Linked DNA regions of Homo sapiens. The protein of the gene in region 1 purifies or fractionates together with the protein of each later gene. This does not show direct contact. Each region holds a gene or a part of one and is shown in the gene's direction. Other genes may lie near its edges. The genes, in order: WFDC1, KLHL8 and OCM.

Region 1 (2,390 bases):
CCCGTACATCCATTCACCCAACCATCCATCCATCTGCCCATTCATCCATTCATGCACATATCCTTGCATTCATTCATCTATCTCTTCTTTCATCCATTCATACATCCATCCATCCACCCATCCACCCATCTACCCATCCATCCATTCACCTATGTATCCATTCATCCATCCACCCATATATCCATCTATCTATTCAGCCATCCAGCCAGCCACTATCCATCCATCTATCCATCCATCCATATATCCATCCGTCCATCCACCCACCCATCTATCCATCCATCCATCCATCCATCCATTCATCTACCCATCTATCCATCTATCCACCCACCCATATATCCATGCATCCATCCATCCATCATTTATCCATTCACCCATTCACCCATCCATCCATCCATCATTTATCCATTCACCCATCCATCCATCCATTCTCCCATCCATCTGATATGTCTTTATCAATAATTTACAGCACATATTTTCTAAGTATTACTCATCAGTCTGTGCTGGGGGTTGGAGCTACATTTGTGAACATGACAGACCCAGTCGCTGCTGTCATGCAGCTAATATCAAGCAGAAAATTCAGACATGAATATAGCCCAAGTGGTTATTTTATGAGAATAGTGACAAGCCTTCCTGACATCACATGCTGGATACTATGAGGACACCTTAGTCCAGGTTGTGAGAAAAGGCTTCCTAAGGAGGAGACATGAAAGCTCAGCCTAAAGAATAAGAAATAGTGGGCAGCAGAATGGCATGTGTGAAGCTCTTGAGGTCGGAAGCAATTTGGCCATCCCCAAAGCTGGAGTGTGTGGTGAGCTGTGGAGGTGGTGGGAGGTAAGACCAGAAACATAGACAGAGCTGGTGACACCAGCTGGGGGGCCTGGGGAGGGAGAGGAGGCACTGCAGGTGGGGACTGAGTGACCTCAGCTGGGGGAGGGAGGAGAGGGCCAGGTCACCAGGCTTCATTTGGCAGTTCCTGGTGAGCCACGGGGGGCATTAGAGCAGGAATAGATACATCTACCCCAACAGAGCTGTGTTCTTTTCACAGAAGGTGACTCAAAGAATGTGGCAGAACCTGGAAGGGGACAACAGAAGCACTTTCAGTAAAGCAACGGCAAGCAGGTGAGTGGGCAGAGAGCAAGAGTCATGGCCAGGGTAAATGTGGGCAGCCAGTGTCCTGGCAGCTTTCACCACCAGGTTGAGGAGCAGGAGGGTGAGAGTAGCGCTTTCCCTACTGGTAGAATTTGAAATTCCCTTCTGCAGTAAGTCCTCACCTAACGTCATCAATAGGTTCTTGGAAACTGACTTTAAATGCAACGACATACTATATGCACTGTATGCCATAGAAGCTTAACTCATTTGTTTGTTTTTTTAAGAGATGGGGTCTCACTCTGTCACCCAGGCTGGAGTGCACTGGCACAATCATTGTTCACTGCAGCCTCAGACTCCTAGGCTCAAGCCATCCTCCTGCCTCAGCTTTAGTCTCAGTAGCTGGGACTACAGACATACACCACCTCACCTGGCTAATTTTTTTTTTGTATTTTTTGTAGAGATGAGTTCTCACTATGTTACTCAGGCTGGTCTTGAACTCCTGGCCTCAAGCAGTCCTCCCACTTTGGCCTCCCAAAGTGCTGGGATTGCAGGCATGAGTCACTGTGCCTGGCCTTAACTCTTGTTTATATCCATTAGCCTATGGTAAAATTGTTTTTGTTATATAGTAGGTCATTTTGCTTAAAGTTGCAGTTTCCAATAAGCTATCCATGATGTTAAATGAGGACCTACTGCAATTTCAAGGCAGGAACGTAGGAGAACTTTGTGTGTGATCAGAAGCAGAAGCAATTCTGTATCCCTCTGAATCAAAAATCCAAGACCAGACTAGGTCGCAACTTTCCTTTTCATTCCTTTGCCTTGATGTCTCCAGGAAGTCTTGTCTATCTCTTCTCATTTCTGTCAAACAATTCTGTTGGGTGCCAACTATCTGATAGTCATGGTTCCAGCCTCTTGGTTGCTCAGCGGTAGTTCATGCCAGGGTGGTATAGTGAACAAATCCCACAGAGCCGCTGCCCTCAGGGAGGCCACATCCTGGTAGGGGACGGCTACACAAGCCAACAGATCAATCAATACAAAGACAGGTGTGGTGAAGAAGTGAACAGGCAATGTGGGGCAGAGTCCCTGGGCAGGAGCAGAGCCTGGGGCAGGGGCTGCTTCGTTTGGGGTCAGGGAAGGCCCTGTGGGGGTTGAAGTCTGAGCCAAGATCCAAGGTGAGAAGGTGCTGCTTGGGGAGGGTCTGGAGGATAGGCGCCCAGGTGGAGGGAGTTGGAAGAGTGAAAGTACTGAGGCAGGAGGGACGCTGGCTTTGGGGAGCCAAAGAAGGCCCCTGGGGTAGACGCAGG
Region 2 (3,657 bases), on another chromosome or scaffold:
GGCTCGGTGGCTCATGCTTGTAATCCTAGCACTTTCAGAAGCCAAAGCAGGCCAATTGCTTGATCCCAGGAGTTCCAGACCAGCCTGAACAACACGGCGAAACCCTGTGTCTACAAAAAAACAAACAAACGAACAAAAATTACCCAGATGTGGTGGTGTGCACCTGTGGTCCCAGCTACTCGGGAGACTGAGGTGGGAGGATCACCTGAGTCCAGGGAGGTCAAGGCTGCAGTGAGCCATGATTGCATCACTGCACTCCAGCCTGGGTGACAGAGTGAGACCCTATTTCCCCCCACCCCCAAAAAAAGCAAGAGATGAGGGAGGATAAATGTTTCATAAAATAACAAAATGTTGTTTTCAGTCGCTAAAATTCACTTGACTATGTCTTTTTTTTTTTTCTGAACAAAATGGTTTATATTAGCCAAAGAAACAAGAGGGAGTTGAGCATTTTAAATAAATTAATTTTTGTTTACTCATGTCAAGATATGTCTGCAATAAAAATGTCACCCATTAGTCTATTTTTAAAAATTCTGTTTTCTCTGTTTTGAGGAGCTTTTATGGAAGCACCAGACTATAATATTGTTCTGAGCTCACTTCTGGTACTACACAATTCTCTATTAGAATCCCAGATCTCCACTTATTGGCTGTGTGAGCATGGCAAGTAATTTTCTAAACCTCTTTCCTTAGCTGTGGAAGGGGGATAAAAATAATACGTACTTCTATTTTACCAGAATTGAGGATTATTTGGTGTTGTATGTGAAAACATTCTCTAAGCTATAATCAACTATAATATTCATTGATATTACTAGTCACATGCTGTATTTTAAAATGCTGCCAGTACAATTTATTTTCTGGTGGATATTGCTATATAGATACTGTCAGCTGCTTTTTTTTTAAATGGGTTGGTCATGCAAGAAAGTATATTGTTTGGTTTGGTTATGAATGATTTAGTTGGTTCTTATGAGTCAGAGAGAGAATTATGGAAGAGGGTTGGAGGGACCTTGGGAAATTTTCTACTTCATCTCTCTGACTCTTAACCTGAATCTGTTAGCGTGAGCATAAATGGTCTTCCAAGGGTCTGTGAACTCTGTATATTTATACTTTTCTGGGGAGAAATTAAATGAAAATTTATACTTTTCTGGGGAAAAATTAAATTAAAAGAGCATCATGACCTTGTTCCCACTAAAGGTTTAGGAAACCACTAGCTTCAATGATCTAGGCAGGTTTCTTTAGTAAAAATGTTAGAGATTATTTTTAAAATTAGTTTTTTGTGGAAAGGAAAGAGAAACAGGTTATATTGCGGAAAGGAAAGAGAACAGGCTATTTTTGAAGCACTGAGTATCTGTTTTTCTTCCAAAGCTAGAAGTTGATATTTATGATACACTACCTTCATATGAATAATAGTGCTGCTACTTCTACCTGGAAGTGGTACCTTTGATTGATTCATTATCATTAGGCAGGTATTGTCTACTCCTCTCTTCTTCCCCACCCCCAGCCTTGATGGGCAATACAGTGGAGGCAGAGAATGGGACTTTAATACAATCCAGCATGTCAGAATATTATTTAAAATGCCAAAAGATAATTTGGCTTGTTTATTCTAAATTTGGATGTTCTTTGTTTTCACAACAAAACACCCAATGTTAAAGAAAATTAAGTGTTTAATCTTTCAAACTAGATGATGATATATACATAATCTGTTGTATGATATTTCTTGTATATCATAGAGTATAAAATTTTATTAAATCCTAATTGATGATCACTTTGACTTTTAGTACTGCTAGTTTGAAAAGATGGATATGTATGTTTTCAAGAAATTTACAGTTTGCTTTTGTAGATTATATTATAATTTGTGATTTTCATTTATAACATTTAAAACTTATTTGCTTTTTTTGAATTTCTGAATCGGACATACTTTTAAATCTGAGTTTATTCTTATAAGAATAAGCGTTTGGAATTTTGCCCTGTTTTCCTTGTATAATGATTGCTGGGCTATAAGGCTTTACAGTGTAAAACCAAGTTCTGTTCTGGATCAGTTACTAGTAGCATTCCCAAGGCTGGGAGAGTATGAGGTGGATCAAGTGATGCTAAACAAACTTGTGAATGAATCTGTCCATCAAGTAATGTCTTTTTCCTTGAGATCTTTTTTTCCTTTGATATTAATATTTTCATTTAAAGTTGAAATGTTTTTCAAAGTTCAAGGTTCTAAACCAATATTTGGGAATTTATAGAATAAAGTAGCAGAAGTGTGGTTCTTTGTAAAAATAGTCTGAGAAGTCTGAAATAGACCTCAAAGATTAGTAGTAGAGATGAATGCCAATATTGCAGCATACTTTATATATAAAAGATAAGTCACTACGTTGGATCTTTAGTTATTTTAATGCAGAGGATTGCTTAACTTTAATAATGAAAGTTTGAATTAAATTAATTAGATATGGAAAACAAAAGGGAATAATTTCAGCAAAAATTTTACCTATGGGAATCCAATCATTTTAAGATCAGTGATTTGTATGGCTTCTCCTACACTTAAACCTTAAAAAATTCTGGCCGAGCGGGGTGGCTCACGCCTATAATTCCAGCACCGTGGGAGGCCGAGGCAGGTGGATCACTTGAGGCCAAGAGTTCCAGACCAGCCTGGTCAACATGATGAAACCCTCTCTCTACTAAAAATACAAAAATTATCTGGGCATGGTGGTGCACAGTTGTAATCCCAGCTACTTGAGAGGCGGAGGCTGGAGGATCATGTGAACCCAGGAGGAGGAGGCTGCAGTGAGCTGAGATTGTGCCACTGCACTCCAGCCTGGGTGACAAAGCAAGACTCCATCTCAAAGAAAAAACAAAACCAAAAAAAAACCTTTAAAAATTCCTGAAACATTTCCTGTATAGGGAGAATATTATTAATACCACTATTTTGGTTCTCATTGTCATTTACACATAGGCACCTCCATACAGAGATAACATTAATTCTGTCTTTGGCCTAGTGATAAGAGCTTGGGCTTTGTAGTCAGGCAAGTCTCTATTGAATCCTCGACATTGCACTTCATAGCTATGAGACCTTGGTTAGGTGTCTTAACTTCTCTGGGCCTCATTATCCAAAACTGCAAAAAAATAGGAATTTTACCTCTTTGAGTTATCCCAAGGATTGAAATGAATACATGTAAGTATTTAACTCATGATGACAATTATATATATATATATATATATATATATATATATATATATATATATCTGTTATGTGCCAGTTTGTTAACTCATTTAAGTTTTATAGCAATCCTATGAGGTTGATACTATTATTTTCCTCATTTTTACAGATGAGGAAACTAAAGCTAATGAAACGTTATGTAACTTAACCAATATCATACAATGAATATACAACTAATAAGTAGATAGAAGCACCCAATTAATGCTTGCTGTTGTCATTAAAAAAAAAAAGATGACTTAGGGTATTACCATCTTTTCTATAGTGGGTTCCTAATAATTGCAATCTCATGTAGAGCATTATAAAGCATATTTTATTTCTTTGCTGGAAAAAATGTTGATTGCAGGACTGTGTTCCTGACCAAGGACTCAGGATCACATAATTTATAAAAGTAATAACATCTGTTTATTGAATCTTACTATGTACTAGATACAGAGCTAAATACTTTATATAAATTACTT
Region 3 (4,247 bases), on another chromosome or scaffold:
CCCTGTCTCCTGTGCCGGGTGAGACCTGTGTGTGCACTTGGTGACAATGGCTTTGAGTCTGTCAACTCCAGACTGAGGTCAGCCTTACACACCCATAGTTCCCAAAGCTGAAAACAGGCCTGCCTCCAACGGTACCTGCTAATATCAGGGGAGCCTTTTCAGCTTACAGAGCACCCTGTATGTGTTTGTCTTAGTTCAGGCCACCATCTCCACCTTACCAGGCATCTAGAACCTTCTCCACACTTTGCCAACAGGGTTCGTTTGCAGAATTGAAATCTTAGTTAAGGTTTGTTGAAGTTTGTTGTTGTTTTTTTTTTTTTTTTACAATTGGCTGTTCCCACCCACATTCCCTTGAGACATAAATAGAAAAAAAAAAAAAAAGAGGTTTCATGAGTAAGACAAGACATTTGAGCTGCATCCACTTGATCCTTGAAAAGGAAATCTAAGAGGTTGTAACTATCACTTTTTCTAGCCTATATAAGGTAGGTCAGTAAGGTAGCAAAAACACATCTGTTGTTTTGCTCCTTCAACTCTTTTTCCTGATTCTTCCTGGGGGGAAACCGAAAACGGTGAGTAACTGGTGGACACATCAGACCCCAGACTCTTTTCTTCACTGCATGCATTCATATTAGGCTCAGGTGCTTAGACTCCTGTTTTCCGGTGGCTCTGACACCTGGAAGGATTTTAATCTCTGGGAGATGGGCTTTTCATCCATCTGCTTCCCACCTTTCAGGACAGGTGCATGCCTTCTTCCACAGAATGTCTGCAAGCAGCCCAAACTGTATCCTTTCCCACGTGGAATTTGCAACATTGCATCTCTCGGGCTGCTGTAGGAAAATGCCAGTGCATGTGTAACATGGTTTACGGCTGCCTATGCAAATGACTGATTATGTCAGTATAATTTTTATAAGAAAACAATTGAATCCTTCTTTGGGTCATTTTTTTTTTCCATTTTTGGCATGTATTCAAAAGAAGGCTCTGAGACAAAAAAGGCTGGGGTGTTTTCCGTATCTGGTTTTAATTTGGATATTCTGTCCCGTCACTTAATACAAAACCATGCTTATCACATTTTAAAAATTCTAGACAGGCCTGGCTCGGTGGCTTGCATCTGTCATCCCAGCACTTTGTGAGGCCAAGGCAGGCAGATCACCTGAGGTCAGGAGCTCAAGACCAGCCTGGCCAACATGGCAAAACCCCGTCTCTACTAAAAACACAAAAATTAGCCAGGCATGGTAGTGCGCACCTGTAATCCCAGCTACTGGGAAGGCTTAGGCAGGAGAATCACTTGAGCCCAGGAGGCGGAGGTTGCGGTGAGCCGAGATCACGCTCTTGCACTCCAGCCTGGGTGACAGAGTGAGACTCCGTCTTAATTTAAAAAAAAAAATAATCTAGACACACATACAGTTTCAGTGGGCCTGGGAAGATGTGTTTCCCCTGGATGTGCACATTCCTGTTTGTGGCTTATCGCCTCTCATTTATTCTGTGTGAGTAGGTAGAAAATGAGCATCACGGACGTGCTCAGTGCTGACGACATTGCAGCAGCGCTCCAGGAATGCCGAGGTAGAGGGGACGTGAGGCGGGGGTGGGATTTCCTCACAGCTTTGCACCTCCAGCGAGTCAACACAAAATCAAAATGTAGGCCAGGCGGCCAGACGCAGTGGCTCACACCTGTAATCCCAGCACTTTGGGAGGCCGAGGCGGGTGGATCACGAGGTCAGGAGTTCGAGACCAGCCTGGCCAAGATGGTGAAACCCCATCTCTACTAAAAATACAAAAAAATTAACCGGGCGTGGTGGTGGGTGCCTGTAATCCCAGCTACTCGGGAGGCTGAGGCAGAGAATTGCTTGAACCCGGGAGGCAGAAGTTGCAGTGAGCTGAGATCATGCCACTGCACTCCAGCCTGGGCAACAGAGCAAGACTCTGTCTACAAAAAAAAAAAAAAAAAGTAGACCAGGCATGGTGGCTCACATCTGTAATCCCAACACTTTTTGGAGGCCAAGGTGAGAGGACTGTTTGAGCCCAGGAGTTTGAGACCAGCCTGGGCAACATAGGAAGACTCCATCTCTACAACATAACAATAAAAATAAAAACTAGCGGGGCATGGTGGCATGTGCCTGTGGTCCCAGCTACTCTGGAAACTAAGGTAGGAGGATCACTGAAGCCCAGGAGGTTGAGGCTGTGGTGAGCTATGATCGCTACACTGCACTCCAGCTTGGACGACAGAGTGAGACTCTGGCTCTAAATAAATAAATAAATAAATAAATAAGAGGTTGGCTGGAAAATTCATGGAATCAGAGAAGAAAACTGCTATTTATTAGATAACTAAAATTATAGAGATCTGGGATCTGAGCACACGATTACACATCTGTAAGACAAAAGAAACCTACTAAACATGAAAGCAAGACATCACTGAAAGGCCAGGTGTCGTGCTCACACCTGTAATCCCAACACTTTGGGAGGCCGAGGCCGGTGCATCACTTGAGGTCAGGAGTTCAAGACCAACCTGGCCAGCATGGCAAAACCCTGTCTCTATTAAAAATACAAAAATGAGCTGGGCATGGGGGTGCACACCTGTAATCTCAGCTACTTGGGAGGCTGAAGCAGGAGAATCAGTTGAACCCGGGAGGCAGAGGTTGCAGTGAGCCGAGATCACGCCACTGCACTCCAGCCTGGTGACAGAGTGAGACTCTGTCTCAAAAAAAAAAAAAAAAAAAAAAAAAAAAAAAAAAGCGCCAAAGGCCATTTAGCCTGTTGAAATCCAGTGATTGCATTTCCCCCTACCAATTAGACCAGGGATGCTGGGGGCTCAGCCACACAGCCTGTAAAGTGGGCCAGGGGGAGGGGGAGGCACAGAAGAGATGAGGAGGGAAAAGGAAAATGGACAAAACCAAGTGGAGGAGGGAAGACTGGGGCGGAGGGGACATGGGATGCCATCACAGAGCCATCAAGTCTTGGCTGTCCCAAAATCTTGGACCAGTTGAGCATCCCCGTAGCTCAGGGATATTGTTGAAGTGTTTTTAATTATCTGTGTTTTTAGTACCTTGGCCCCAACATAGAATGTGATCCAACAAGCGTCAGAATAACCAATTCTCTGTTCTTCAGACCCAGACACTTTTGAACCCCAAAAATTCTTCCAGACATCAGGCCTCTCCAAGATGTCAGCCAATCAGGTGAAGGATGTTTTCCGGTTCATAGACAACGACCAGAGCGGGTACCTGGATGAAGAAGAGCTTAAGTAAGCTTTGTCCTGAGTCTGTCTGGTACCCGGCACTGCTGAGTGGGCCTGGGGTGCAGTGGGGGCCAGGTTGCTCAGTATTTCTTCAATGGCCAGCCTTGGTGTTGGTCATTCGGCCAAGCATCATTAAAGCAAAGGACATGAGTCAGTTGACCGCACATCTACCCATGCAAAGCCCTCAATATGGGCAGAGAAGACTGCAGGTGCAAAGATTCTTTTTTTTTTTTTTTTTTTTGAGACAGGGCCTCACTCTGTTGCCCAGGCTGGAGTGCAGTGGGGTGATCTCAGCTCCCTGCAGCCTCCGCCTTCCAAATTCAAGTGATTCTCATGCCTCAGTCTCCCAAGTGGCTGGGATTACAGGTGCCTGCCACCACATCCAGCTCATTTTCATATTTAGAGTAGAGATGGGGCTTCACTATGTTGCCAGGCTGGTCTCAAACTCCTGACTTCAAGTGATCCTCCTGCCTTGGCCTCCCAAAGTGCTGGGATTACAGGTGTGAGTCACTGTGCCCAGCCACAAAGATTCTTTCATGTAAGGGATTTCCTTTGGCAAATGGACTTTAAAAAACTAAAAACTTGGCTAAGCGCAGTGGCTCACGCCTGTAATTCCAGCTACTCAGAAGACTGAAGCACAAGAATTGCTTGAAGTCAGGAGGCAGAGGTTGCAGTGAGCCCAGATCGTGCAGCTGCACTCCAGCCTGGGTGACAGAGAGAGACTCTGTCTCAAATAAATAAATAAATAAAAATTAAAAACACTAAAAACTTAAAAATGGGCCAGGCACTGTGGCTCACACCTACAATCCCAGCCCTTTGGGAGGCTGAGGTGGGTGGATTGCTTGAGTGAGCCCAGGGGTTCCAGACCAGTCTGGGGAACATGACAAAACCTTGTCTCTACAAAAAAAAATACAAATGTTAGTGGGGCATGGTGGGGTGCACCTGTAGTCCCAGCTACTCAGGAGGTTGAGGCAGGAGGATTGATTGAGCCCAGGAAGTCGAGGCTGCAGTGAGCCAT

What was found.
Region 2: the proteins of WFDC1 (region 1) and KLHL8 purify together in Homo sapiens (affinity purification with mass spectrometry; one large-scale study listed by BioGRID and IntAct). This does not show direct contact.
Region 3: the proteins of WFDC1 (region 1) and OCM purify together in Homo sapiens (affinity purification with mass spectrometry; one large-scale study listed by BioGRID and IntAct). This does not show direct contact.

What each region holds. Positions count from the first base shown.
Region 1 is NC_000016.10:84,325,837-84,328,226, forward strand, and holds part of WFDC1 (WAP four-disulfide core domain protein 1 isoform 1 precursor), read left to right. Parts: intron 1-1,045; coding exon 1,046-1,104; 3' UTR 1,105-1,119; intron 1,120-2,390. UniProt on the Homo sapiens protein: Has growth inhibitory activity.
Region 2 is NC_000004.12:87,213,984-87,217,640, reverse strand, and holds part of KLHL8 (kelch-like protein 8), read left to right. Parts: intron 1-3,657. UniProt on the Homo sapiens protein: Substrate-specific adapter of a BCR (BTB-CUL3-RBX1) E3 ubiquitin ligase complex required for The BCR(KLHL8) ubiquitin ligase complex mediates ubiquitination and degradation of RAPSN.
Region 3 is NC_000007.14:5,879,391-5,883,637, forward strand, and holds the start of OCM (oncomodulin-1), read left to right. Parts: upstream 1-1,407; 5' UTR 1,408-1,499; coding exon 1,500-1,560; intron 1,561-1,965; exon of another isoform or gene 1,966-2,000; intron 2,001-3,102; coding exon 3,103-3,235; intron 3,236-4,247. UniProt on the Homo sapiens protein: Has some calmodulin-like activity with respect to enzyme activation and growth regulation. Binds two calcium ions.